3 separate regions of the Homo sapiens genome follow, and regions 2 and 3 are each linked to region 1. The links come from fine-mapping of genetic effects on gene expression. A gene starts in region 1. Each other region holds a variant in brackets. All regions are shown on one strand. Distances are between the middles of the regions.

What was found. PIP is the estimated chance that this variant, and not a neighbour inherited with it, causes the effect.
Region 2: its variant is fine-mapped to the expression of FGF12 in lung (TOPMed, PIP above 0.99).
Region 3: its variant is fine-mapped to the expression of FGF12 in tibial nerve (GTEx, PIP above 0.99).

The regions. Positions count from the first base shown.
Region 1 is chr3:192,723,706-192,731,894 of GRCh38, reverse strand. It overlaps FGF12 (fibroblast growth factor 12), which reads left to right and starts at 4,354. Exons shown (of 6, transcript NM_004113.6): 1 at 4,354-4,411; 2 at 4,572-4,714. The coding sequence starts at 4,702. LOC107986056 (a long non-coding RNA gene) reads left to right here. Exons shown (of 3, transcript XR_001740579.2): 3 at 3,341-4,172. It also overlaps the pseudogene RNU1-20P.
Region 2 is chr3:192,002,136-192,010,324 of GRCh38, reverse strand. It overlaps LOC105374277 (a long non-coding RNA gene), which reads left to right. Exons shown (of 4, transcript XR_924827.2): 3 at 1,608-1,803; 4 at 5,088-5,261. Among named protein-coding and RNA genes, the nearest start is that of FGF12-AS1, 230 kb to the left of the region's middle. The variant C/G (reference allele first, on the strand shown) is at 4,020.
Region 3 is chr3:192,398,091-192,406,279 of GRCh38, reverse strand. The region is part of intron 2 of FGF12 (fibroblast growth factor 12); the gene reads left to right. Among named protein-coding and RNA genes, the nearest start is that of FGF12-AS2, 110 kb to the left of the region's middle. The variant C/T (reference allele first, on the strand shown) is at 3,803.

The DNA of each region.
Region 1 (8,189 bases):
GAAGATATTACTTACTTTTCCAGATTAAAAAAATAGGACCCAAATGGATTAATTGCCCAAGATGGTACCATAAATAATAAGAAGCAAATTGTATTTGAGCCCACGTCTGTCTGGTTCCAGAATCTATTTTTTTCACTATGCTCTACTGTCTCTCTATTCAAATGTATGATAGAAAACTTAGGTGAGATAAAGAGATATGATCTCTCCCAGATACTCTGGAGTTTTGTAGCTCTGATCCCGGAACAGTACTAAGCATTTCTCTGCCTCCGTCCACTTTCCTCTTTGACATTGGAGATTCACATCTGGCAGAGAAACCTGGAAAATGATAATAACTTCTTATGTCCAAAAGTACTTTTGCACACTCACATGGTCCCTGCCCCACACTCATACCCCAACCCTGTGAAGCTCACACTTCAAGAACTAGCTCTATATATGTCTCCTCCAGGAAACTTTCTTAAAACCCTCAGGCTGGCTGACTGCCAACTCTTCTGCACCTCCTACTCCACCTGTGACAACCTATCTTATACCTTACGATAGCTTTTAAAATCATTTATGTTTCTATCATCTTCAATAGACTTTATGCTTCTGTACGGCAGAGATCATGTTTTATTCATACTTTAACCTCTCTGTGCTCCAGGTTGCTTATCTTTAAAACAGAGATCATAATAGTACTAACCTCATAATATTTTATTTTATTTCTTAAATTGACAAATAATAATTGTACACATTCATGGGGTAAACAGTGACATTTCAATACATATAATGTAAGTGATCAGATCAGGGTAATTATTATATTCATCATCTCAAATATTGATCATTTCTTTGTGTTGGGAAACTTCAATATCCTCCTTCTGCTGATTTTAAAGTATGTAAAATATTATTATTAACTATAACCATATTACAGTCGTATAGAACACTAGAACTTATTCCTCCCACCTAGCTGTAATATTGTATCCTTTTACAAATCTCTCCCTCCTTCCCCCTACCCTTCCCAGCTCCTCCTATCCTTTGTTCTACTTTTTACTTCTATGAAATCAACTTTTTCTTTTATCTTACACGTATGAGTGAGAACATGTGGTGTTTAACTTTCTGTTTCTTAGGCTTATTTCATCAAGCATAATGTCCTTCAGTTTCATCTATGTTGCTGCAAATGACAGGATTCCATTCTTTTTTATGGCTGAATAATATTTTATTGTGTATATGTACCCCACTTTCTTTATGCATTCATTTGTTGTTGGACACCTAAGTTGATTCCATATTTTGACTATTGTAATAGTGCTGCAATAAACATATGGGTGCAGATATCTCTTTGATATACTGATTCCCTTTCTTTTGGATAAATTCCCAGTAGTGGGATTGCTGGATCATATGGTAATTCTAGTTTTTTTTTTTTTTTTTTTTTAGAAAACTCAATACTGTTCTCCATAGTGACTGTACTAGTTTACATTCCCACCAACAGTGCATAAGAATTCCCTTCTGTCTGCTTCCTCACTAGCATGTGCTTTATTTTCTTTGTCTTTTGATAATAGCCATCCTAACTGGGATGAAATGATATCTCTTTGTGGTTTTAATATGCATTTCTCTGATGATTAGTGATGTTGAACTTTTTTTCATATATTTATTGGCCGTTTGCATGTTCATATAGCTTATTTAATGAATAAAGATAATATTCATTAAACATTTAGAATCCTTATAGTACCTGGCACATAGTAAGCTCTGAGCAATGTTAGGTCAATATTATCATCATTTTGTTATCATGGTGATTGTAGTTAATGTCACATAGTAAAGTACACAAAAACATGTATGCTAAATGTTATTAATTCATGAAACATTTTTATTGTTTCCTATGTTCAGGACACTCTAGACTACACTGAAGTAAAAGGAGGCCATTTAAAAATATGAGTGGGAAAAAGGAACAAGATATATACATAAATCATTCTGGTACAGAATAAAAAATAGTGATGGAAGAGAAGTAACTCATCAGTTTTGGAATCATTAGTGAGCGGATCATCAGTGTTCTTGGTAGAGAATATTTTCAGACTAAGAGTATCAGGGAAGACTGTAAGAAGGAGATGGATCTAGAGGAAAATATAAGATTTGAATTTGTAGATACTTGTGGTAGGTAGTGGTTTGATGAGGTCAAGATATTCCAGCAATGACTATGTAAGCAAAGGTAAGAAAAATCTTGACAGAGGAGCTATCATGAGCAAGAAGGTTGTTTTCCCAGTCAAGGCTTATCAATTGCATTCCAGATGTGCTGACCCCTGCAATTTCCCCATACGTGGGAAACTAGACTGCATAATTTGTGGTAGTGGGGGTCTGTGATCCCACTTTCCCCTGGTTTAAAAACAATCTTGAGGTTTGTTTAGGATAATAGCAATTGTTGTCTAGGAGTTAAGCTTGGAGAAGAATGGAAAGATCTTGAATGTCAGAACACAAATTTTGCATTAAATTTGATTTGCTTTCTATTTAATAAAGCAGCTGGGTTCTTAAAATTATGAATAAAAATAATGATAATTTATGAACTAGAAGGTTCTCCCTGTTCTTATTCACTGTAGATAATGGGAAGGCAGTTATATGAAAAATCATTCTGGACTATAGATGGCTTGCCTCTGCCTTTGAGGTATGACACTTAGGTTCTGAGCCCAGATCTGGTTCACCATGTGACTCTTTTCAAGTGCCACTCCTCCCCTGCCTTTAGTTTCTCCGTCTGTAAAAGAATAAATATGAAGAGTACATAGAGATGCATTCTAAAGATATCTCCTATTCTAAAACCTTTGAGAAGGAAAGAACATGTAACGGGGTGCAGTATTAAGAGCAGAAATTATTTATCTCAATGAAATAGACTATTGTTCTTAAGGAGCAACACTACTCCCACCCTAAGCTTACTTCCTAAGCCTATTCAACATTGAAAAGAAATCCTGAATTTTATGATTCTTCCAAACACGTACTTTGGCATACAGTTGGAGAACCTAAAAATTAGTAGGCCCTAGGTTGTGGCCTCTGCAATCCGATACTCCTAAATGCTGAATGGATCCAGGCGTTGCTGACCCACAGCAGTTCATTAGTGGGAGTCCTCCACTAATAATGTCCATGTCTGGCTGAACCATCCGTGGTTAATATTTGTAATCATGGCCCTCAGGCATTGGAAAAATCAAAGGATGCCCTCTGAATCACCAGAAAAAGATTAAATTAGATACAACTCCAGGTTTCTTGTTGGGAGTACATTTTATTATATTTCAATGTTTTGAAAATTGGGACTAGAAGCCTACTGTGGAAGGATCTTTCATGAAGTAGAGTATGTGACTAATCTGCACATCTCCTTCCTTAACCATTTCAGATAACAGAGTTTTCTGGACTTCTGGAGAATAAGATTATTATTCTCAAGGAGAGATGATCACCTCAGGAAAATCTGGACTATTGAAAAAAAAAGGTAGTAAATACAACACAATTTTTCCTGTTAAACATTTTGCATATAAACGAAATACAGTGTGGGCTTTAGAAATATTTTGATATGAAAGTAGCACTTCAAGAGATTTGTGGTTTTGCATCTTCCTCTAGAGCTCTGTACAAGAAAAATACTCTATCCCTGCAACTTCACAAAAATGATTAGGTATTGCTTTTGGAAGTACTTATTATCAATAAGACGCCTCCCCACCTTTGGGGACTTCTTGCAGGTTGTTGGAAAAAAGCTAAAAAGAGCACCTCAAAATATCCTCAGTGGCTTTTTTGAAGAACTTTAGAAGCCTTGGAGCCTGCTCATGGAACAGTTTTGAGGTGGAGGCAGGCAGGAAAACACTGAGTTTGAGTAACAAAGAAGCGAGAGAATATTAACCTTTGACAGCTCCATAACTACTCTCACCCCACTCTCGAAAAACAAAACAAAACACATACAGGAATATAACAAGCAATGTGAAGTCAGTGGGGAGAGGAGAGGGAAGCAGACAGCTGGAAAGTTACTGCAGCAAGTAGAAAGAGAAACCCAAATTGTGAACATTAAAAACGATTCGTAAATCTCTCCTCCCTGCCTTCTGAATAAAACCATACCCTGCCTGGAGACACTAGCCTCCTCTAAGACTTCAGTAATTCGTCCTGATGCACGCAGTACTAGTCCAATCCATTTTCTAGTTTGCAGAGGAAAATCCGGTCCGGCGTTTATTTTTAGCAGCGCTTCCCTGTGACCGAATGCTACAGCTCCTCAGCTGGGATAACTGAGGACCGTATTGGGGAGGGAGGCGAAGGGGGCGGGGGAGCGGGAGGCGGTGAAAAGGGGAGGGGGGACGCCCTGCGCATGCGTGCCAGCGCCCATGCAAATCTGCTGTGCATCCAGAGAGCAAAGTGGGATGATCTGTCACTACACCTGCAGCACCACGCTCGGAGGACAGCTCCTGCCTGCAGCTTCCAGACCCAGGTAAAAAAAAAAAAAAAAAAATCTGAGCGGGCACTGTGCATGCATTTCAGTATCAGATGCGCGTCGCAACGTATCCCCTGTAGAGGCAATCTGCTGCTGCTCCTAAGTGTCCTTTGGTGGCTGATTGCAGCTTCAAGGTTTAAGAAATCCCATCTTTCAGGAAGCCTGAGGGGAAGGAAGGAAGTACGGGCGAAATCATCAGATTGGCTTCCCAGATTTGGGAATCTGAAGCGGGCCCACATCTTCCGGCCAACTTCCATTGAACTTCCCAGCACTCGAAAGGGACCGAAATGGAGAGCAAAGGTATGTGGTTGTCCCTATCGGGGGACTTCCCGCTGCATGTGCGTGTGGCCAAGGCAATCCTCGGCGAGGGGACTGCAGTGCTTGGGGAGCGAGCATCATACTAGGTCGATAGAGGAGGAGATGCTATGTCCATTGCAGCACTGGGGAAGTGTGGCAGGAAGGCGACTTCTTTTTAACTCCCACAGCTTGGAAGACAGTGTTTAATACTCCATCAGTTGCGTAGTGAACTGTGATGAGTTTTTTGGGGGGAGGTGGGGAGAGTCCCCCCAAAATGGAGGAGGAGGAGGAGGTATGTGTTAGTAAAGCAATATCTTTTCTGTATAATGGATGGACTCAAATAAATCTATTTCATTTGCTTTAGAATTGCTGACAGGCACGTTTGTACCTGATATCCAATAATGCATTGCTAAAAAAAAAATGTTTGAATTTCACCACCCCCACCTCATGAAGATGGTATTTCTGGGTGTGTATGACCACATCCTACTGCATTTTGAATATATATCAGCAGAGAAATTGGGTCTATTTGGAACAGCATGCGTTAGAACTGACCTCTAAGAAGAACAGTGTATGGGAGTACTGCTTGGCTTCCAAGCATAATGCATTTACTAGTTCTGGACATGTACATATTAATGTTCTCCTCATAAGCAAATCTGCATAATGTATGCATGCCAACTGATAAATGAACTGTAAAAATCAACTTCTGAATGGCATATTGAACACACATAAACACAACGACTATTCTAACCACAAGATTAGATATCTTTTGGATTTAACCCCATCTATGCAGGTCTGTTTCTCCTTCTCCTTAAAACGCCCACCAGGTTGTGAGAGCCTTGAGTGATATGGTGGTCAGATATCCAGGAGGCATACTGGATGTATTTAATTCTGGCGAAATCAGAAGAAATGATGTCAACTTTTATGAAACTATATTCATTACCCAGAACTCGGGAAGCTATATTTGAAACAAGATTTTATTTTTAAACCAGGAATGTCAGTCACTGTGGTAATGTACTTAGGATCAGGGAATGGTGGTGAGTTACCTATTTCTGGGCTGATTAATGAAACTGGAGTGTTGAATGATAGCAGTTCTATGTTCAATAAAGTGTTTTAAGTATTTAATTGGTAGATTTAAAGTATTTGAACCTAGGCAAGCATTTATAGTATAAAAAGAGCTGAATCAACATGGATTAAGACTAGCAGGCAATTTTCAGTTCAGGCAGATTATTCTTATGATACATTGATGGGCATCTCCACGTCTGACAATGATGTACACATATGAGAGAATCCATGTCTATAAGTATATTTGAGGCATATATTATTAACTCTATTATACTCCATTTTAAAATAAAAAGGCAGTCCTTAACATATAAAGGTTTGTAATATTCTAGCTGACTAAGTATTTCTGGGACATAAGGTTAACAACAGAAAAAGAATATCATTTTACTATGAAACAGTTTTTCTTGCTTAGATGACACCTGGTATTTGGTCACTAAATTTAGTTATTTGACAAAGGTTCTTGGTAACAGTTTTGCCTCCAATGTGTATACTAATTCCTGTTCAATCATAAAAAGAGGCTATATCTCTCGGCAGTAATCTTTTATTTTCCTTCGTTGCCCATAAAACATGCTACGTGTCACTTAGCATTCCAGGTGGTTTAATGATCATATTGCTAACAGTAGAGTTCTAGCTGTTCTTTCAGTCTTTTGAATTCAGAAAGGAGAAAGAATCTCAGAAATACATCCGAAAAGAATCAGTTCAGAAGTTCTATGTCAATCCAGACAGCAATGATATAGTGAATCACAGCACTGATCCAAAGGCAACGAAGACTTTTGCTGTAGGCCAACATTGTGGTCATTTTGCAGAGGTCCCATAATTGCCTCTGAAAAAAAAAAAAAACATGATGAAAGTCTTTATGCATGTTAGTTCCTGGACTTTCTTAATGAAGCTGTGTTAGCTGCTTGGCAATCAGATTAAAAATGGCTAATTACTTATACATTGGCCTCACTTTCTAAGTTGGTGCAAATGGCACAGCTAACGATGGTAGCTAACTTGAAATTTTTATTCCAGCCAAAAAGAGTGTATTAAGAGAAATGTGTATTTGTGCAATACTGTAATTGGTGCATCTTTCACATTTTATGCTGCCGTGTACAAACTTCTTCCCCCAACAGATTCAAATCTAATTCTAGGAAGACATTCTCAAATGTATGTATATATAATACTTTTCTAGTAGAAACTCTTTAAAGATAGAGTCATATTGCGTGACTCAGTTGAGGGTTCAAGAGTTCTCTATCCCATACCCAGATCTAATGGCCTGTTTAATCTTGAATCCCATCGCCAACACTTGACAACTTTCACATTACCTCTAGCATTTGACAGCCTTTCTTAGAGCATTTGTCCAGCATCCAGAAAGTTGAACTTCAGCTATTTACAAATAAGATCAATTTATTTTTGCTTCCTTATTTACAACTTTGCATCACTCCCTGTCATACAGGGTAAAGAAGAGAGGAAAATACATCAGTTGACCTGAGGTTCAATTCATGATCTAATTTCAGCGATTTTTGTGCACCATGTACTTAACATTGTCTCAAAGATTTGGGTTGGTACGCAGTCCGAGCAGCTCTGACGGAATTTGTGCCTTGCGTATCTTAAGGGCTTGAGATTCTTAAATGAGTTAAAATGTTTAGTATTTAGAGGAGTGGTTCACAAAGTTTGCTGCACACTAGAATCACCTGACATACTTTCTGAACATACTCATCCTGAGATGGCACCGCATACCAATGAAATTAGAATATTGGGGTGGAAGAAAAAAGCATATATGTTTCCTTTAGAGGTCCCTATGTACAGCAGTGTTTGGAAACCACTGATTTAGACTCTTGATAGTCAAAATGTGGTTTGCAGACAAATTTTTTAGAACTGCAGAATCTCCATATTTACTCCAGGTCTATTGAGTCAGAATTAGAATTTTGACAAAGTACCTAGGCAATTTGTATGCACATTAATGTTTGAGAAGCATGATTTGGAGTGAGGAAACAGGCTTTTTCCTTCCTTTCCTCCTTCCTTCCTTCCTTCTTTCCTTCCTTCCTTTCTTCCTTCCTTCCTTTCTTCCTTCCTTCTTTCCCTCTTCCCTCCCTTTCCCTTCCTCCCTTTCTCCCTCCCTTTTCCCTTCCTCCCTTTCTTCCTTCCCCCTCCCTCCCTTCCTCTCCTCCCCTCCCCTCCTTCCTCTCCTCCCCTCCCCTCCTTTCCTCTTCCCTCCTTTCTCCCCTATTCTCCCCTCCCCTTTCCTCTCCTCTCCTCTCCTCTCCTCTCTCTCTCTCTCTCACACACACACACACACTCTCACCTCCCACTGACCCCCACCTATATCACATTTTTCTTTGTCTAGGTAGATTTCCAGCCTCAAGCTGGCATACTACCTATAGAAACACCTGTAGAGCTTTTCAAATGTAAAGATGCTTAGGCCATACCCCTAATAATG
Region 2 (8,189 bases), 720 kb after region 1:
GATGTCTACTTTCCTTTCTCTCTTCTTTGAAAACATTCTAGTAAGATCTGTCACCCTCCATTTTAAAACTGCTTTATTGAGTTATAACTCAATTCAAAACTATATACAAATTTAAATTGTGGAATTTAATACATTTTGACATATGTACATGCCCATGAATCCATCATCACAACCAAGACAATGCACATATGCATCACTCCTTAAAGTTTCCTCATCCTCTGTGTCATCCTCCTTTTCTCACCCCCTTACCCTACCCTAATCTCACCAGCCCTGATCTGCTTTCTGTGACTGTAAATTGGTATTCATATTCCATAATTGTGTGTAAGTGGAATAAAACACGATGTGCTCTTTCTGTTTGTCTTCGTTCACTTAGTATAATTATTTTGAGATCCATCCATGCAGTTGCATGTATCAATAGTTCATCCCTTTTTTATAGACCAGCAGTATTTCATTAAGTGTACAACACTTTATTTATCCATTCACCTGCTCATGAAGATTTGCTTTTCCTCACACACTTGGGTTACCAGTACTCAGCTGAAGACTTGAGGGACCTCTCTACAGCTAGCTATCTAGAACTCTCTGTTTGCTCAGCTCTGTCTTCTCCAGTATTCTGTCTAGAGAAAGCTGAACAACTTGACATCCCTGGACCCTCAGGTCTCTTAAATTAGGGACACCACTGGGCTTTTTTAGATTCCTTTCCCTGCCTCTCCATAGGGATCTAGAACTCTCTCTTTGCTTAGCTCTTTCTCCTCCAGTACTCCCTCTAGAAAAAGTTACACACGATGACATCGCTGTACCCTACAGTCTGTCTTAATTTAGCATGATGGCTGGGCTTTTTTCAGGTTCTTCTTCCTGCACAATGACCTGTATACTCTCTATAGATTGTAAGCTGGGGGCTATCACACAAATTACTTTATTTTTTCCCTCCTCAATCAGGAATCACTGTCTTGGGCTGCCTGATATCCAACATCTAAAATCTGTTGTTTCATATATTTTACCTGGTTTTGTTCATAGTTTCCATTGTAAGTGTAAATCCAGTCCCTGTTTCATCATCATGGCTAAAAGTGGAAGTTTCTTTTTGGTAATATTCAGTTATAGAAGTCTTATTTTTATAACTATGACTTATTTTAATGTATTAAAGATATAGTCGAGTCCAACCACAAAATGCCAGCCTCTTGTTCATTTCCATGCCTCACTCCTCTTTTAAATGGATGCCTCGCTCATGGCTCAGGGATCTGCAGTGGGAAAGAAGTCATAGTCTGTTTTCTCACTCTTCTTCTGGCTCTTTCAATTATCATAATCTCTCAAGCTGTGGACTCTTCTGAGGCTGGGGCAGGGGAGTGGAAGCCAGAAGAAAGGCGGGTGGGCTTTAGGTAATTTTTACTATTTTATTTGTACTCTTTGGTTTGATGCCCTTGATATTTGCAAAAACTCTCTCATGAGTTGCATTTTTGGGTTCTTTGGAGGCCTCACAGAAACTGCCAAATGACAGTTTCCACACAACTAGGAAATATACCTTCTGACAGAACGTTTGCAGATGCTTCCTCCTCCAGCTGCTATGTGGATATGTAACCACATTCACCCTTGATATCTCTTTATTTCACCAGGCATCCTACTGAGATGAATTCTCTTTAAAAGAGCTACTTTCCATGGCATCCATTTGGCCAATAGAAAATTCATCATGCTTACCACACCAAGTAGCAGGAAGGCAGGCTTGTCACGCTGTACCCTCCTTCCTTGCCCTAGTCTCCAGTACTGCTCCAGCTGGCCTCTAACCTCCAGAATCCTCCCATTAATATGCAGGTATGAGTTTCTAAATAACGCACACATACACCCTACCTCTCCCTAAGGGGCCGTATCTCAAGCTATCCCCAAATGTCTTCATATTTCTTTTTTTTTTTTTTTTTTTTGTGACGGTGTCTCACTCTGTCACCCAGGCTGCAGTGCAGTGGCTCGATCTTGGCTCACTGCAAGCTCCGCCTCCCGGGTTCACGCCATTCTCCTGCCTCAGCCTCCTGAGTAGCTGGGACTACAGGCGCCCGCCACCACGCCCGGCCAATTTTTTGTATTTTTGGTAAAGACGGGGTTTCCCCGTGTTAGCCAGGATGGTCTTGATTTCCTGACCTCGTGATCCTCCCGCCTCAGCCTCCCAAAGTGCTGGGATTACAGGCGTGAGCCACCGCGCCTGGCCCATATTTCTTTAGTCTGGTAATCTACATGTATATCTTAGTAATTTAGTAAACATTCAGGAGCAAAGTAAAATGGCAGTCCCTAATTTTTGCAAGCAACTCAATCTCCCAGATGTTTTATTGTCCTTAGCATTTTCCTCACTTGGCTTGAGAGGTTGATGATACCCCTCTCTTATCTTTCCCTTAAGGAAGGGTAGGATTAATATTAAAGAATATGTTAATATTAAAACATGTTAGTCTCCTATTAAAATAGATATTTGAGTTTCTAATGGTTGTTTCATTCTCTTTGCTGTGTTTTAACAAGTCCCGCATGAGTGTATCTAGAAACTTTCTTTAGAATGTGATTATAGTGATTCATTCCCATCCAAAATTCAAGACATAAGGAATTTTGTCATTTAACATCTTGTTGAGACTGGATCAAATATTCCTTTTGGAATGATCACTATAGCTGCAGTGCAGGAAACAGAAGAAAGGGAGGACAAATAGGACATTATTTATTTATTAATACTTTGTTCTTAGCTTTGTTGAGGTATGATTAACACATATAAATTGTATGTATTTTAGGTGTACGACGTGATATTTTTGCTAAATGTATACATTGTGGAACGACTACCACAATTGTGCCAACATATCCAACAACTGGCCTATTCATCTTTTGTGTGGTGGGTTGGGGGACAGAGGGGTGAGAATACTTGAGATCTACTTTCTTAGCAAATTTTGAATATAGGACACATTGCTATATTAACTATAGTCATCATGCTGTACATTAGATCTACAGACTATTTGTCTTATAACTGAAATTTGGTATTCTTTGGCCAATATCTCCTCTTTTCTCTCATATTTAAAAGACTATGGTTCATAATAATTCCAGGTATCAAGCTGAAGTTACTCCTGAAAGATACAGAGAACAGCTTTTTTTTATTATTATTAAAACTTCAGAGGCACTGCAACTGGGATCTAAAATCCCGGGGAGCCAGCAGTAAGGGTGTTGAGGCTGCTACTGATAGAGACAATGATTGGAGGTGGAGGTCTCCTTTAATTGTGTCTAAGACAAGGAGATTTATTCTATTTGTCTTGGTTCTCTTGTGGGTCAGAGTCCAGGTTCTCTAATTTCACATTTATGGGACCAAACCATTAACTCTTGCAGAAAGTATGAAAACCATCTCAAAAGGTATTTCTGGCCTACCAAGGAGGGTATGTTAGATCTAGAAAATTCCTCCTATATTATTGAAACCAAATTTAAGAGAAGCCTTAAATTCTCTTCTTAGCACACATTTTTTACACCTCGGGGGAATAGATCATTTAGATCCATCTTGAGCAGTTCTTGGGGCACCGTTTGGCATGTTTGTCTCTTATTAGGCTCCATTTTTCTAAATCTTAGTTAAAAAGAGGGATAAATTTAGATAAATCAAATTTCTGTTCAAATGCCATCTCCTCAGAAATATTTTTTCTATCAAAAGAGCAGCTATCATTTTCTATCCCTTTATCCTACATTATTTTCCTTTATAGCTCATCTTATTACCTGACATTATTCTGTATATTTTTATATTTATTTATTGTTTGGCTATCTCATTTAAATGTTAGTTTTATGAGGATAGAGACTTAGTGTGCTTTATAAGGCTAGAGACTTAGTTGCTTCTGTATCTCCAGTGCTTAGAACAATGCCTGACATATAATAAATGTTCAGTAAATACTTGTTGAATTACTATGTTGAGTAGAAGACTGGACCTTTGTTGAAGTTCTCTCTCAGCACAACATCATTTCCATTATTTCTTTGTAAGAATTTGATGCTGAGGATTTCCCTTCACAGTGTTATCTAACCCTTTTATA[C/G]AGGAAACAGTCCCAGTACTTGGCATGACATTGCAGCTAGACATAGGATCCAAACATCTAAGGTGGCATTGTGGAAAGAGACAGTTTATCACATGGACCCACGCCCAGGAAAACAAATAAAGAGTCCAGTTATCTGAGTTGGTGTTCTCAAAACAGGAAGTGGCTCTTTTACTAGAGTTGGAACATATAAACCAGTCAAGATGGCTTGATTATGAGTCCCTTTAACACTGAGCCAAACTTTAATGTTGCTTTGGACTAAAGACTGGATTGTTAACTACATTTGCACAAAACTAATCCTGAAGTGGAAGGTGAAGTAGCTCCACCTGAGGGAGAAGGGAAGATGAACTGTGAAGAAGCAATAGACACTTCGGGCTTTCATGTAACTGTGGCAACAGGAATCCCAGTCAGTTCGCCATGATGTTGAAATTGATGGTTACCAAAATGGTCAAAAAGGACTTGCTTCACTAAAGTGACCAGAAAATTTCATTCAAAATTATCAATTGTGTAACACTTTTAAAACATAATAGAATGGCCATTTATATGACTACGAAAGTATTTATCTTTAAAAGTTCCAGGGAACATTTCTTTCTGGTGTTTAGGGTCCATCCAAAAATCAACGAGTACTTAGCAGCAATACAGTTGGAATTAAAATCCCATTAAGTCTCACTTTGTGAGTTTCTCTAATTAAAGTCTCACTCTACTTCTCAGTAAATATTTATTAGAGGAATCATTAGGTGAAGTCCCAAATTATTAATGTTTGAATATAAATATCAAATATGCTACAACAAGTATCCAAATGTTTCACGCAGTGTCATTAATATAACTGAATTAGTCTGGAAAATGTCATCAGAAATGTCTTCAATGTCAGGGAGGGTAGCAGGAGGGGCTGCTACTCTCACTGATGATCAGGAACTTGTTTTTCCTTGTCCTCCTACATTTACTCTAATTCGAGCAAAATGGCATTCATTTTTGAAGAGTTATAAACAGGATTATCTCAAAGATACCTTTCAGTCTCAAATCCCTTGTACCTTTAATTGTGCTTTTAAGAGTTATCTGTTTTCCTCCTAGGTCACTATCAGAGTCCTGTGTGTGAACTGAGGTGAGGATTCCGGTCAGGCAGACACTTCAGTCCATCAGAGCAACTCTACTTTTATCTCTTTTTTAATACTGGGATTTGCAGTATATTTTCATTTGAAGACTGTTTTGTGTATAAAAGCAAAGCATTCTGGGGGCAAAGAAGATACAGTGGAACTGAGTACAGGCCAAAGAATCTCTAGATAAAAGACTTTTTTTGTTGTTATTCAAAGGTCATTTAAATATGGTTAGATTTATCACCTCTATTATTGATTAATATTTACATATATTTGTCATATCACTCAATTACCAATGCATAAGCACCACTTTTCTGAGGAAAGGAATATTGATGCATCTCAGCCTGCTACTTAAGTGAGATAATTAATATATCTCTGGAATTATCTATGCATGGTAGACCTTGATGTTTGTCTGCAAAGGATAACCAAGTTCATTCCCAGGAATAAATTACATATGTTTAAAAGACATATTAAAGAGACCAATTAGGTGGAAAAAGCTTCTTCTTCATATTAACACAATACATTTAATTATAGCAATGAGAATGCAAAGAAAATGGTACTTGAAGAGGGAAATTTAAAGGGTGAGGGAAATTCAGAATCCAGAATAATCACAACGTGAGCCCAAAGAAGGTAAATATTTTTGAGGAAGTTATAGTTTAACAATAATTTGATGTGACACTTTTCTTTTTTTTCTTGAGATGGAGTCTTGCTCTGTTGCCCAGGCTGGAGTGCAGTGGCGTGATCTCAGCTCACTGCAAACTCTGCCTCCTGGGTTCAAGCAATTCCCCTGCCTCAGCCTCCCGAGTAGCTGGGATTACAGACATGTGCTACCACACTCGGCTAATTTTTGTATTCTTAGTAGAGATGGGTTTCACCATGTTGGCCACGCTGGTCTCGAACTCTTGACCTCCTGATCCACCCACCTTGGCCTCCCAAAGTGCTGGGATTACAGGCGTGAGCCACTGTGACCGGACCAAAACTTTTCAAATATAGTATTCAACTTGGCATTATTATTAATCTTAGGTTCTATACCTTGGGAACAATATGAATTGCAATATGAGATACATATTTGGGTAATGATAGAGCAATGATTATTATGGCAGGGAACCTCTGATTTAAGAGAAACATTGAGCAGTCTGAGTTAAAAGACAAAGAAGTGGGGTCCTGAGCCAAGCTTTACCAAACATTACTGACCATAGACAATTCACATTCCCTGTCTAGGTTCCAGTTTTTCTATAATTTGAAGATGTCGAATTAGTGATCTTTAAAGTTATTTCAGTTATAGCATTATACAAATGAAAATAAAATAAAAAGCTTAGATTCAAAGCACATGTGGTATCCCAATGAATTGATTTCTGATAAAACCCACTTGAGTTAAAAAAAAAAATGTGATTTTATAGCAGCCTGTGTGCAGGGGGCAAACAATTTTTAAACCAGAAGATAAATAGAAGGAGTGATTGTAAGAGATTATTAAGAAAACTGAAAAGAATATATTTGGCATTCATGAGGAAAGTGAACACTGCCTCTCAAATTATTTTTGCTTGAGAGGAGAGTGGCCTTTGGCTTCTCACCTGTGTTTTGGTTGGCTTTAAAAACTTGGATTTAAGTCCCACCAAAGTTGAATATAAAATGTATAGAAAATTCCACTGCTCAAAAAAAAAAAAAAGAACACTCCTTCCACAAATTGCCATTATGTATGATAGTTTGCCATTTGAGACAATCATTGAATATTCTTAGTTGCAAACAACAAAATTCACTCCAATAGTTTTAGTAGGAAGTGATTTATTTGAAGTCTATTGGCAGCACCAGAAAACCTGTATAGACCAAGGGGACCAGGCTTAAATCCTAAATATCTAGGAAAAATATGCCTTTGGGAACAGCTGTCCAGGAGCGATGCCAAGGGAATGCTGTAGCAAAATAGCATTTTCATCAGTTGATGTTTGCAGCTGATTATGCTCAGAACTTTATGGTTAGGTATTGCCCCCCTTGTGGATTTTAGTATTTTTCAATGATTCTGGCAGATTAGACACAGTCCATATTGTCCTCACCATAGCGAGGTGAAATCCATGTTGTTGAGCTTATAGTTAACTTACCTTCCTGACTATATTCAGGAGCCCTTTGAGCAAATACTAAAGTACTTGAAGAAAGAGACTACGACTACAATACAATTTTCACATTTTTGTAACTCTACTACAGAGGAGTCCTTTTTGGTGAGTATTCACATAAGATATAAATATTCTCACCTTTGGCTCATATCTCTTTATCAGTCTTCTTTGTCAATAATTATCCAATTTCATTCCTTCCATGTGACTGCCCATTGGGTGAAAACTTTAGCCATTGCCAATTAACTGGTAGATGTCTACATCTGACCCTATCACTGGATGTACTGTAGTTTGTTTAAACATTAATGCATTGAAGGACATTTGTGTTGCTTCCATTTTTTGGCTATTCCAAATAAAGCTCCTGTGAAACTTCTAATATACGTTTTTATAGAATGTCATGTTTTTGTTTCTCTGGAATAACTGTTCCCAAATAGAGTTGTTATATGATAGTTGGCTGTTTATTTTGTTTGTATTTTTCTTTTTCTGTCTTTTTTTAAGAAAACACCAAATTGTTTTCTGAGTGACCTGATTTATCTACACCCTTACCAAAATTTGGTGTTTTCACTATTTTTGGTTTTAGTCATTCTGATAGGTGTGCAGTGATCTCAACGTGATTTTACTCTACCTTTCCCTAATGACTAATAATGTCAAACATCCTTTCATGTGCTTATTTGACATCTGTTTATACTATTTGATGCAATGTCTGTTCATGTCTTTTGCCCAATTTATTACAAGATGTTGAATTATATGAATGCTTTATATATTCTAGCTACTAGTTTTTTCATTGGATACGTGATTTCCAAATATTTTTTCCAGTCTATAGAAAATGCCTTTACTTTCCTCACATGGTCTTCTATAGAATAATAGTTAAAAAAATTGATGAGGGCTGGGTGTAGTGGCTCACGCCTGTAATCCCAGCACTTTGGGATGCCGAGGTGGGCGGATCACGAGGTCAGGAGATTGAGACTATCCTGGCT
Region 3 (8,189 bases), 330 kb after region 1:
TGAACGGGTAACATAAACTGATCCTGATCTCTGGAGTTGACTTGGAGATGATCAATGGGTTACTTTTGCATGGCTTCATTTTGCATGGGAAGGAAGGACTGTATTTGCTGCTTCCTGTGGGCTCTTCCTTAGCATCTCATTAGAAAACAGAGATTTGAGGCAGTTTCTGAGTTTATTGTTTTCTTCAGTGTTCGTTTAATTTGCCTCCCTTTTTGTTCTACACAGTGTTCATCTTATCAGAGAGGATCCTGACTGGTGACTTCCTTTAGCTAAAGTGTCAAAATAACAATCTGGCAGAGAGATGGCAGGACCTATTAAGACATTCCCAGTGCAAGGGCAACCTGCGTGTATTTGTATACCATTTCAGTTTGTTCTGAAGCTTAGCTTAGAAGAATGGGCATGTGGTGTGTGTAAAAACATTTTGGGAAGATGATAGTGTGCTATTATCTTCACTAACAAAGCCAAATAATTAATCTGTTGATTTGCTGTCAGCAGCCATGATTCACATAGCATGGAATAAGTCTATTTATAGAGAGATAGCACCTTCCACATATCAGTTCCAGAGAAGAATCTTTAGTTGGATTGGGAGGAAGTTGCTAAACACCAAAAAGAAAAACTATTCGAATCTGTTTTATAATCACTTTGATGTTGTATTCACTTAATATTTGACTGATTCTTGAAACCACTAGCCTTCCTAAGCCATATCATTGTGAACTAACAAAGTAACTCACAAATGGTAAAGTGGTGAAGTGGAATAATTTGTCCTGATAAAGAATTTCCACTCTGAATTTCTGTCACTGAGACACATGTTCCATTGACCAGACTTTCTAGGGGAGTGAGGCTTAGGAAGTGAATCTAAGGCAAGTGTTTGATGGGAAAGGCCACGGTTGTATTTCTGATTTCAGGGCTGACACATTGAGTATCTCTCCTTCTCTTTTTTCTTAGCTAACCAAGTTCTGATATGTGTAGTATTGAAGCTGTATAAATACAGTGGGGATCCTGAAATTATCATGGCAAAGGGCTCAGATTTAAAATGACAGTAACACAGAATGAAAACATGGGAAATGACTAGGTATGGCCTCACATCACACAGTTTCAGGGCCAGGGTGCACATTGGATCCTTTTTGTGCAGCAAAATCTCTGTCTTTGTAGATGAGAAATCCTGGAGCCATTGCAAGTTTGTAATTTATCTAAGGTTACACAACTAGGTTTTGTCAAAATTGAGACTAGAACTAGATTCAGTTGACTTTTTTTCCTACCTTCCTTGCAACACAGCAGAAAGTAACATCAACTAGTGTAAATAACTGGATGTCTTCTGTCAAAGTTTTAACCATTGGTATTATTATTATCATTGTGATCGTTATTTTATAATTAGAACAGAGATAGGGTAGAGTAGAAGAGGTAACTTGTAGAAGAAGGCATAGGCTAAGGAGGCCATTGGACTTCAGCAATGACCACCGTATAGCATTATTGAAGACCTATAGGCAGCTAGGGTTAATGGGCCCCTTAGACACTGTGTGGACTGTAGATCTTTGAAAATGAAATATTGGAGACCCTGAACTGGAAAGTTGGATGAGGTCATTGAACCATGAAAAAGCCTTTAGAACATTTCTGTTTGTGCACTTTCTAATGAGAAAAGAGTGTACTTATAGTCATTATTTGAGTCATTATTTATGTGTGAAAAGGCTGTATTAGTCAGGCACACTAGAATATTTGCCTAAATGTTGATGCCACTTAATTTGTTGTATCTAGACTATTAGTACATCCGTATGAATTACACGCTTATTCATGTCCAACCTTTAGCTTTATTTTGAGTAGAAACAATAGTACAAATGATTGACTACAAAATGATGTATGTTTTGACTCGGAAGTTATTACAGACAAAGGGTAACACTCATAATCAAGGAGGGAAAGGTGTTTGTAGAATCTCTGAATGTCTGAGTGGCCACGAACCTTGGAGGTCATCAATATTACTCTTTCATTTTTCAAATGAGACCCTCTCTGGAAAGAGCAAAGCAATTGATTAAGCCTAAATCTAGGTATTTTAAGTGATGTGGGTGTTTTTATTATATTTCTATATAACTTAGTTTCTTACCTCAAACCAGAACATGAAAAGAATAATCAATCAGGAAAAATCTATCTTAAAACCTAAAGATCTTCAGAATTTTTTTACAATTTAAAGATTTGATTTCATACGCCGATCCCTTTAAAAAGTAATGGAGTAGAATTACACTACATGGTAAAATAAATCAAAGTAGTAATTGTAATTTACCCGATTTTGTTGATTTTCATTTACCTTATCTTTCTGAGTCCCTGTTTCTGCTGTTATAAAAATTATGGTTATTCAAAATATTTCAGTATTCTTTTACATTGTTTCGGTAGATGCACAGTGTTTAACAGTATACTCATTCAACATTTTTATTATAAAACGTATCCTTTTGCATAGAGGAAGAAAATATCGTAGGAAATAGAAACTTCAAGAAGAAAGTTGACAGTAAAGGTGAAATAATGTTTAATCATGTGATTTATGGAATATGAGTTAGATTTTTATAAATTGAAATAGTTTTGGCCAATATATGGGTCAAGAATAGATTTATATGACAGGTGATATTTTACATTTATAGGAAGTACTTTGATTACATTTTCTCTTTTGAAAGTATGACTCATATCTGAACTACAAAGTCAGCCTAATTAAATGATATTTGGCTTGATTTTTGTTAAAAAAAAAAAAACAGTAAGACCCCTAACTTTTCAGAAACCCACCTTAGGGTTTAAACTGATATTTTGAACATGTTTTTAAAATTCGGTTCTCTCTACAGCAGTGCATTCTCAACAACAAATTATGTTTCCATTGTAGGAACATTTTAAAATAGCAGTTATTGTGATCTCTTGATTTCTTTCATCCCACAGAGATCTCATCAAGACGTAACTCGAGATTAAGTCTTTAAAGTTTTAATGAATTTGTTTTTCTTGAACAGAAGTAGAAAAACAATTTATAGGAAGTGAGGCAGTCTCTGCATTTGAGGAAGCAATAGGAATATTTTGGAAGATCTTTAGAAATGTAAGCTTTGTCTCATAAAATTGTATTTTAAAAAGTCCTGGGCTTACTCATATGGAAACTCATTGCTTTTATTCTTGGTGAGAGAATAAATTTGCTCTGGAAATTTTGTAGATTTGCTTTGGAAATATGTTAATAGTGATCAATTTTTTCTTGTCTCTTCTTTGAATGCATGATCATCATGTATATTTGCTTTTGATGTATAGAATTATTATAGATTGTATGATGATTCCACAAAACAGCCTTGTTAGACATAGAGGACACGCTTGATATGCTATATTTTCAATTTTATCTTCTGGCTTACTCATGGAATTACAGAACTTTTCCTATTTTCTAAAGAAAGGTGCACCACATCTAAAGGGCTGTGATTCCAAGACTACCTCCTAAGCATCTGTGAGTGGGAGAAGGCTTAGATGCAAAATGCCTATAAATTAATCATCTATAATAATAAATTTTAATAATAATAACTTGACTTCAGGATTTATAGAATTTCTTTATAATTTTTGCTTCTTTTACTTTTTATAGCAGTCTGCTGAGATAGCCCCATCTTAGAAAAAAGAAAACTAAGCCTCAAGTGGCAATGAGACTTGTTCAGATTCATGGAATCAGAAGATGAGTAAGTGTCACATGGCTCCCAGTTCCACACTGCAGATAATCTGCTTTTATCTCCCACCACACTGAGGGTTAGGAAGCTGGGAAACTATTGTTGGAGGGAATCTGATGAAAAGTTCAAGAAATGTGGAA[C/T]GTGATTACATGGTTTGTTTTGCTGTGTGTGTGGTCTAGAGTCCCCAGAGTGGAGGAGAGAAGTGGAAAGCTGATGGAGATCTTCAGGGCAGGACTGAAGAAGCAGTCCCATGGCTATGTTGTTATGTGCTGGGCTTAGGCTCCTGGCTCGGATGTTCCTGCCTGAATGCCGGGAGCCTTGATGATATGAAGGGGTGCCACATGGGATACCTAAGGACCCACTGGGAGACTTGGGCCCAGAGGGCCAGACTCTCTTAACCATAAACATAAATGATTGCTTCAGATGTTTTGGATAGTAAAGAGGTTAACACCAAGTTAAAGAGAGCTCTGTAAGATTTAATCTTTTTGTTTGTTTGTTTAACTTAAGTGATAGCATAGCAGAATGATTAAGTACCTGGACTTCGGAGTGGGATGTGAATTCAAATTATGGTCTTATTATTTGTAAGAACATTAGGCAAGTTTCTTAATATCTTTGCACCTCAGTTTGCTGATTTGTAAAATGAAGATATTACCTCTAGCTTTTGGTCAAGAAATGCTTCTTTGAGGAAAAATCATTTAAGCTGAGCTCCAAAAGATGAAACAGGCAGACAGGAATGGAAGAACCTTCAAGGCAGAAGAGAACAACTTGCATGAAGATTGATGTGAGAGGGAGCTCGGTGCTTCTGAAGAAATTGAAGTATAGCTGAAGCAATAAGAACAAGGGGAGAGGGGTACAGATGATGTTGGAAAGTTTGGCAAGAACCGCAGGGCCTTGAGAAGCCTAAGATGAATTTTGTATTTTAATCTAGGGTCCAAAGAAAGATCAGCAGTATGGGGTGATATCATGCGACTTGTATTTTTAATTGGGCACTTTGCCTTTGGAGAAGAGAATGGATAGCAATGGAAGCAGAGTAGAAGCAAGGGAACAGTAAGGAGGCTAGGGCATCAGTCTGGACCAGCAGTTCTCAAAGTACCATACAGTACAGAGGCCCTAGAAGCTTCCTGAAAATCTTTTAGTGGATCCAGAAGGTCAAAACGATTTTCATAAAAAATATTTCCTAATACCACTAGTTATTTGCCATTTTCACTCATTCTGTCACAAGTGTCCAGTGGAATTTTCCAGAGACTGTGTGATATATCCACAATCATCTGTAAAAGGTACTAAAAATTTCCTCCCTTTTCAACCACGTTTCTTTGTGAGGCCAGGTTATCCTCATGTACTTCATCCACAATAAGATATCAAAAGAGATTGAATGCAGAAGCAGACTTGAGAACAAGCTGACTTCTATTAAGCTAGACATTAAAAAGATTTACAAACCAGTCTTTTCATTAATTCCTTTTTGTTTGTTTTGGAAAATAAAGATAAGTTTTATTAAATCATGCTATTTATGTTAACACAGTGGGGCTTATTATTGTTTTAATAAACAAATAATTATTTGAAAAATTTCATTGTAACTTCTAAATACAGTAAATATTGAGAGATATAAACTACATAAGCACAAAGCTCTTCGGGGTACTCAATACTTTCTAGGAGTGTAAAGGATCCTGAAAACAAAAAGTTTGAGAACCACTGGTCTAGGCTATAGATGATGTTGAAATGAAGTTGATGGCCATGGATATAAAAAGAGTGGGTAAAGGTAGAATGAGCAGAACTTCATAAGAGGTAGACTATGAGTGGAGAGTCGAAGGTGCCTGGATAATCCCTGGCTGAACTATTCCATAGTGAATTGCATGTTTGTGGAGATGGAGGAATGCTGGTGAAGGAGCAGGGTTGATAGAGGTCAAATAATGTAATTACCCAACTACAAAACACTATAGAATGTGAAGGTGGGGACGGGGTGCGGTGGTTCACACCCATAATCCCAGCATTTTGGAAGGCTGAGGCAGGTGGATCACAACGTCAGGAGTTCGAGACCAGCCTGGCCAACATGGTGAAACCCCATCTCTATTAAAAATACAAAAATTAGCTCAGTGTGGTGGTGGGTGCCTGTAATCCCAGCTACTTAGGAGGCTGAGGCAGGAGAATCATTTGAACCCGGGAGGCGGAAGTTGCAATGAGCCAAGGTCGTGTCATTGCACTCCAGCCCGGGCCACATGGCGAGACTCAGTCTCAAAAAAAAAAAAAAAAAGAAAAGAATGTGAAGGTGGAAGATTGGGTTTTATTTATTGTTTAATGGTTTTACAATACCCATATATATAAGGCTGTTTACTTTATTCTTGAACTCTCAAGAAACACTCATTGGCCTTCGAATCGTCAAGTGATTTTACAAACACAAATTTTATAAAGTTCTATTTTTCTGCCTATTGTTAGTTATTTGATTCGTTTGTAGTATTTATAGGCCTCCCAGACTCCATGCTTGTAACCACACTTATGTTAATGCCTCATAATTGAAACTTGGACTGATGGTTTTGCATTTGAAGATTCACCAACCATGGATGGAAATATTCAAGAAGAAAACCATAGTACAACCATGCTATGCAAATACTATGCCATTTTATGTAAAGGACTTGAGGATCCTCCGGTTGGGTATCCTGAGGGTGGCGGTCTTGTAACCACCACTCCTCACCCTGAACATAGGGAGGGATGACTGTACTCTATAGAGTCTTTTCTTCGTTACTTTTCAGGAGTCAGTAGAGAGGGCCCTAAGGCCTAAGACCAAACTTGGTTCCCTAGAAGTAAAGAATGACATGGGTCAAATAGGATCTGTATGCTGAATCACAAAATGTTAGCACTTAGAGCTTATATAAGCCACTGGTTCTCAGCCCTAGCTGCAAAATGAAATCACCTGAGAGTTTTTAAACGTACTAATGCCAAACACCTAGAAAGTCTATGCTAATATGCATCATATATTGAGAGTCCCCAACCTGTTCCAATTCCTTTATTTCATAAATTGTGGCCCTTAAACAAAATTAATGATTTTGTTAATGTCTTTAGGAACACATCCATTATGCCTAGAAATTTTATACACTAATATAATTTATAATGATGATCTCTTCTGTCTCAGCCCATTCTGGTTGTTATGATAAAATACCATGCACAGGTGGCTTAAACAACAGAAATGTATTTTTCACAGTTCGAGAGGCTGGCATTCCCAAGATCAAGGTGCCGGAAGATTCGGTGTCTGTGAGGGCCTGCTTCCTAAGTCATAGATGGCAGTCTTTGCTGCTTTTTCAAATGGCAGAAGGGGCAAGGGAGCTCCCTGGGGTCTCTTTTGTAAGACCACTAATCCCATTCATGAGGAGAGAGGCTTCATGACCTAATCACTTCTCAAAGTCTTCCACTTCCTAACATCATCTTGGAGGTTAGGATTTCAACATTGGGCAGGGGGAGGGACACATAAACGTTCTGTCCAAGGCACCACTTTTTTTTTTTTTGCTTATATTTGAATCTTTCCTGTGTTTAATGATATCCCAAAACTGAGCTGCATCATCATATGGAATGCTTGCATGCCTCGTCTTCTTGATGAAAACTTCAGTTCCTAAGCACAGGACCTGGTCAGCACTAGATTTCTCAGAACTTAGTATACTGCCTGTGTCACTGCAGTTCTTCAGTTGCTGTTAAATCAATGAGGAAATGACATCCTGACTCACTGAGCAAGCCTCAGAGGAAGAAGGATTCTGAAGGTAGCATCTCTCCTTCCCACCTAAGGATGCTGAGGTCCTGCAAAGCCTGGGGCTTCTCAGTTTCACAGGACTGGTTAGATTCTGGATTTAGACTCAGGTTTGTTTTTCCTAATCTACTTTTCTTTCTACTCTGCCAGTCCTGGAAATGGACCTCAGTTTCTGTCTTTGAAAAACAAGGGAGCTATATATAAGAATATATAAGAGCTGGCTCACACCTGTAATTCCAGCACTTTGGGAAGCTGAGGCGGGCAGATCACTTGAGGTTAGGAGTTCGAGACCAGTCTGGTCAACATGGTGAAACCCTGTCTTTACTAAAATACAAAATTAGTCGGGCGTGGTGGTGCATGCCTGTAATCCCAGCTACTTGGGAGGCTGGGGCAGGAAAATCACCTACCTGGGAGGTGTAGGTTGCAGTGTGCCAAGATCACACCACTGCACTCCAGTCTGGGTGACAAAGCAAGACTCTGTCTCAGAAAAAAAAAAAAAAAGAAAAAAGAAAATATAAGGGCCTCTTTAGCCTGAAAAGCTATTAACTGTAGCTCCCCTCACCCCAGGAAAAACATTTGTGACTGGGAACATGAAACACAGATCTTTTCCCTGCTTCTTACTTGAAGGACAAAACTATTTTCTTAGTGTGCTGTTTTGGATGTTCCTAACTGCATCCCATGGTTTAATTACTTGCAAGGCACTAATAAAGAAATCTGTCTAAAATGTCAGTCTTTCTCTTGACACCAATTTAGGCTTATTTTGTCTCTTCAAGGATTAGAAATTAAATCAGTGTGCT